Linked DNA regions of Homo sapiens: region 1 is linked to region 2. Evidence: fine-mapped expression QTL. A gene starts in region 2. The other region holds a variant in brackets. All regions are shown on one strand. Distances are from middle to middle.

Region 1 (2,904 bases), 31 kb after region 2:
GCAAGAGAAAGGAGAGGCAGAGGCCTTGAGCAGGACTCTTGATAAGGTGTCCCTGGAAGAGACAGCCCAACTCCCCAGTGCTCCACAGGGCTCTCGGGCAGCCCCCACAGCTGCATCTGACCAGCCTGACTCAGCTGCCACCACTGAGAAAGCCAAGAAGATAAAGAACCTAAAGAAGAAACTCCGGCAGGTGGAAGAGCTGCAGCAGCGGATCCAGGCTGGGGAAGTCAGCCAGCCTAGCAAAGAGCAGCTAGAAAAGCTAGCAAGGAGGAGGGCGCTAGAAGAGGAGTTAGAGGACTTGGAGTTAGGCCTCTGAGGCCTTTGGGGAATAGGGAATGGACTGCAGAACAAACCGTGGGGCTCTCTGGGGTCTGGGGGAATACGGGCAACAGCAGTCAGGAGGGGTACCCCCCATACTGGCTTACTTCCACCTCCTGCGGCCCAGCTCTGTCCTCCAGAGCCTAGCGTCTCCCTCAATCCTTCCCTTTTCTTCCCAACTTCTACTTTTTGGACTTTCCCCCTCCCATTCCCAGTGTTCAAAATCTCAGTGACTACCCCAGGTACCTTTGCTGCTGATTTGGGTGTCTTGTTTAAAAGAAAATCAGGTGGGTGGGAATCTCTTGGAGAACTGAGGCTGAGGGTAGAGGGAGTATGCCCAAGTCTTGGAGTCTTGGTTCCTGTTCGCGGTGTTTATGGGTTATTTCCCTCTCCATCCCTCATTTTTTTTTTTTTTTTAAAAAAAGCAAAAATGAGAATAAACACAAGTAGACATGTCTGGCTTTGCCTCCTTATTTTCAGCTCCTAGTAGATATTGTATCTCCTGAGTTTGGCACAGGAAGACAAGTATTGGGAGTGATTTCTTTTCTTTTCGAGACAGAGTTTTGTGCTGTTGCCCAGGTTGGAGTGCAGTGACGTAATCTGGGCTCACTGCAAACTCTGTCTCCTGAGTTCACGCAGTTCTCCTGCCTCAGCCTCCCTCCCGAGTAGCTGTGATTACAGGTGCCCACCACCACACCTGGCTAATTTTTTAGTAGAGATGGGGTTTCACCATGTTGGCCAGGCTGGTCTTGAACTCCTAATTTCAGGTGATCAACCCACCTTGGCCTCCTAAAGTGCTGGGATTTTAGGCATGAGTTACTGTGCCCAGCCGATATATATTTTTTTCTTTTTCTTTTTTTGTGAGATG[G/A]AGTCTCGCTCTGTCTGCCAGGCTGGAGTGTAGTGGCGCGGTTTCAGCTCACTGCAACCTCTGCCTCCCGGGTTCAAGCAATTCTCCTGCCTCAGCCTCCCGAGTAGCTGGGATTATAGGCACCCACCACCACACCCCCTCTAATTTTTGTATTTTTAGTAGAGACAGTTTCAGCATGTTGGCCAGGCTGGTCTCAAACTCCTGACCTCAGGTGATCCACCCAGTTCAGCCTCCCAAAGTGCTAGGATTACAGGTGTGAGCCACCACACCCAGCCCAATATTTCTTTTAATTTTTTTTTTTTCTCTTAGAAACTTCGTTGGTCCTGGAGAAAGGGAGGCAAACGGCCCCTGCCTCCCGCCGAGTGTCCCCCCAGCCCTCACTGTTTCCCGTTGCCATTGATGGGGTGGTTCAGGTGCTCAGTGGAGGCCAGGAAGGCCTTGAGCTTGGGCCGGACGCTGAGGTGTGCCATGTAGGCCGAGAGCAGGGGGAACACATCCAGGCAGCTGGTGGCCAGGACCTCATGGATCAGCAAGTCCAGCAGGTTGTAGTAAGCGAGGGATATCTGGTCGCCCACAATGAAGGCCTATCCTCCCTGGTTCTGGGACGGCAGGGTCTCAAAAGGCTTCAGTTGCCTGGGGAGTGCCTTCACATAAGTCACCCTTGCCCACCTCGTAGTTGGTATAGATGAGGGTGAGGTATTTATTTATTTACTTTATTTTTGAGACAGAGTTTCCCTCTTGTTGCCCAGGCTGGAGTGCAATGGTGCAATCTCGGCTCACTGCAACCTCCGCCTCCCGGGTTCAAGTGATTCTCCTGCCACAGCCTCCCAAGTAGCTGGGATTACAGGTGCCCACCACCAAGCCTGGCTAATTTTTTGTATTTAGTAGAGACTGGGTTTCACTATGTTGGTCAGGCTGGTCTTGAACTCCTGACCTCAGGTGATCCACCTGCCTTGGCCTCCCAAAGTGGGATTACAGGCGTGAGCCACCGAGCCCAGCCTGAGGTATTTAATTTTTTTTTTTTTGAGATGGAGTTTTGCTCTTGTTGCCCAGGCTGGAGTGCAGTGTCATGATCTCAGTTCACTTCAATGTCCACCTCCTGGGTTCAAGCGATTCTCCTGCCTCAGCCTCCTGAGTAGTTGGGATTACAGGCGTGCACCACCACGCCTGACTAATTATTTTTATTTTTATTTTTATTTTTAGTAGAGATGGGGTTTCACCATGTTGGCCAGGCTGGTCTCGAACTCCTGATCTCAGGTGATCCACCTGTCTCAACCTCCCAAAGTGCTGAGATTACAGGCGTGAGCCACTGCACCCGGCCAGAGGTATTTAATTTTTAAAAATTGTGAGTTTATGACCAAATTAGCAACACTAATTTCTGCATGTTTGCTGAGACTTCAGTAGACGAATTAGTGTTATAATCAAATGAAACTTAGAACAAATTTAACTTGACATGTTAATTTATATGTTGCCATTAGTGTGCTGAATAGCAACGGGAGTTCTGTACCTTCCTTACTGTTTCTGAAGATAATCTTATTTCACAGCTGCACCTAGGACAACTCTTTTGAAATTTCACCTTCTTAGATGCCACCCCAAGATGGCATTGTGGGGCAAATTAGTGATACATGTAGAGGAACTTACACCCAAAAGATCTGTCACTTAATTTTTACATGTCCTCTGGTTTCCATACCCTCATTTATCGCAGCCTTTTTCTCTAG
Region 2 (2,904 bases):
ACCGTTGCTGCTAGTAGGTAGCCCTCAAGAGGGAATCATTTGCTTGAAGCCTCAAAACTTATTAAGCCTCCACAAACACTGAAGACTGCAGTGCTACACCTGGCTGAGGGGGTTGTGTGTGTGTGTGTGTGTGTGTGTGTGTGTGCGTGTGTGTGTGTGTGTAGAGGGTGTCATTGCGTAGTATAGGAGGAAGTTACGATACTGGCATGGTTGGGGGATGTGGGCTTGTCTGTGCTGAGGCTGAAGAGATGCCCAGTAATATTTGCCATTCTTCCTCAGGAAGGCTCATTTCTCCTATCAAGGTGAAAAGTGAGATTCAGACTCAGGTATTTTCAGAAACTTCCCAGTGACAGGTGGGGAGAGGATGGGGTGGGAAGTTGGGGACCTGGAGGCCAAACAAGAACCCTTCTCCACCCGTGCGGCACTGTGGAGGTTCCGAAGAGGACTTCCCTCCGAGTCGGGTCCCAGGAACCGGGCTTCACCATCCCTCCGAATGAGCGGGAGGGATGGAGGGGAAGGTCTGGGAAACGTTACCCACCGGGTTCGGGCCCAGCCCTCCCGCTGCACCCCCGCGTCCCAGCGCAGACCCTTCTCGATACCCGCTCCAGCTGTCACGCTTCCTCCTTCCCGACCCAGCAGCACGAACGCAGCCCGTGGGTCCTCGGCTTCCCTACCCCTGTCCTTTTCCGATGGGGGAGGGTGGGGCGCTGGGGGGCTCGCGGGGTCTCTACCTTGCTTGAGAGGGCTCGCGGTCGCAGCTGAAGCGCCGGCGCTGGAGCTGGAGCCCGAGCTGGGCTGGAGGGGACGGGCCAGGCAGACGCGGCCGCAGCGGGGCCGCCCCGTTCCTGACGACATAGCTGCCCGCCCCCCACCCCAGCCTGCCCGCCGCGCCCGCGCCCGGCGCCCCCGACTCTGGGAACTTCGAAGTTGGAGAGGCCCGTTTCTAGGTTTCCAGTTCACCATAACCTGCTCCACCCTCCCTCGAATATGTCCGGGGCTTTGGACACATTTTCTCCATTTGCTGCGCTCCTCATCTTCTTCCCGCGCCGGCGGCAGCTCTGCTTCTATTTTCCCTTCTTTCTAATCACTCACAGCCTCTCCCTTCATCCCAAACCTGGGAGACCAAGATACCGGGCGGGCCGCTAACAGAACAGCTCGGCAGTTGGGCACCCAACCAACGTCTCATTCTCTCCTGATTGCTGCCATCCTGAACTTCCCTAACCAACTCCCTTCCATCCACCACTGACTTCACACTCAGGAGATCCCACGGGGGCAAGCCCAGAGTCCCAAACTCCACAACCTGACCAAACACCTCCCTCCCGCCCCGGGCTCTACCCTGCTTGAGACAATCTCCCCACCTTCTTCACGTTCCTCTTTCCTTTTAGACCTATTTTCCCCAGTCTAAGGACACCTCCTGTCAAGACTCATGTTCTCTCCTTAATTCTAGGGTGGAGTTTTGCACTTTGGTCTATGTCCACCCTTTCTCCACGCCCTCATCCTCCCACTTTACCTGCTGGTCTTGGCAGGTGGCACAGAAGGCCCTGGCCAAAAGTAGGGAGTGAAAGGTCCTTTCAGCTTCCCCTGCCTGGAGTCTCTTCTAGAGTCATTAAGGCTCTTGGGGTCGCATGGATGGTGGTGAAGGTGGTACAGCAAGGGAGAGAGATGGAGGCCTAGGGACTCACTGGCAGGAACTGGAGACCCAGGCATCCTGCTCACTGGCCCCGCCCCAACCCCTGTCTAACTCCCTCCTACCCTTCATTGAAAATGGGGCAGAGTAACAAAGCCTTAGGTTCCTGGAATCGTCCTTCTTACACCTGGGGGTGGGAAGAAGGGGGAGGGGAGACCTCTGACTAGAAGGGTATATGCATGTGTGGGTATTGTGTATGCATACATACACACACATAATATATACATACTTTTGGTGGGGGTTGGAAAGGGAATGAATACATGAGGCCCTCTAGTGGAAACAGGGATATCTAAGCAGTTCTTGATTGTTTCAAGACAGGCTTGTTGGAACAGACTCCTCCACATTTGCCAGAAATATAGCTGCTGAGTAATAGGGTTTGGGAGTATTGTTGTATCCAAACTGGAGATTTCGGGCATAGGTTGAAGAGGGGTCTGTCTCTCTGCTCCTGTGCCCCTCCAAGTCTCACCCTCTCACCCCCAATCATAAAAAGACAAGGGCCAAAGGCCGGGCGCGGTGGCTCACACCTGTAATCCCAGCACTTTGGCAGGCTGAGGCAGGCGGATCACGAGATCAGGAGATTGAGACCATCCTGGCTAACACGGTGAAAACCTGTCTCTACTAAAAATACAAAAAATTAGCCGGGCGTGGTGGCACATGCCTGTAGTCCCAGTTACTCGCGAGGCTGAGGCAGGAGAATCGCTTGAACCTGGGAGGCAGAGGTTGCAGTGAGCCGAGATCATGCCACTGCACTCCAGCCTGGGTGACACGAGCAAAACTCTGTCTAAAAAAAAAAAAAAAAAAAAAAAAAAACAAGGCCCTTGACACTCCCCATCCTGTCTTTACAGTATTTTCTTCACTGTTAGCAAAGCTTCATCTCTCCTTCCTCTATGACCTCCTTAGTCATAGTAAACAAACTCTTCTGAAGGCCTTTTATACACTAAGTCCTGTACTTAGTTCTGCAATACAAGCAAAAACATAGTCCAGTTTAGGGACTATATCAATGAGTGGTGCAATGTGTGTAAAGCCTCTCTGCTCTGAGCTACTTTAAACAAACATACAATGTAAGAATAGGTCCCCTAACACCTCTGCCTATCAGTTTTCTGTCCCTGGATCTTTCATTTAGAAATCTTGGAACGATATTAATCTCTAAGGCACTCAGCTTTCCTTGCAAAGAATGCTCAAAGTAATGCCACCCTATGTATTACCTGTGTTTCTCA

The links. PIP is the estimated chance that this variant, and not a neighbour inherited with it, causes the effect.
Region 1: its variant is the best candidate, but not a certain one, in a credible set for the expression of DGKA in tibial nerve (GTEx, PIP 0.71).

The regions. Positions count from the first base shown.
Region 1 is chr12:55,899,284-55,902,187 of GRCh38, reverse strand. It overlaps PYM1 (PYM1 exon junction complex associated factor), which reads left to right. Exons shown (of 3, transcript NM_032345.3): 3 at 1-775. The coding sequence ends at 316. It also overlaps the pseudogene GSTP1P1. Among named protein-coding and RNA genes, the nearest start is that of PYM1, 27 kb to the left of the region's middle. The variant G/A (reference allele first, on the strand shown) is at 1,187.
Region 2 is chr12:55,929,951-55,932,854 of GRCh38, reverse strand. DGKA (diacylglycerol kinase alpha) reads right to left here and starts at 1,693. Exons shown (of 24, transcript NM_001345.5): 1 at 1,511-1,693.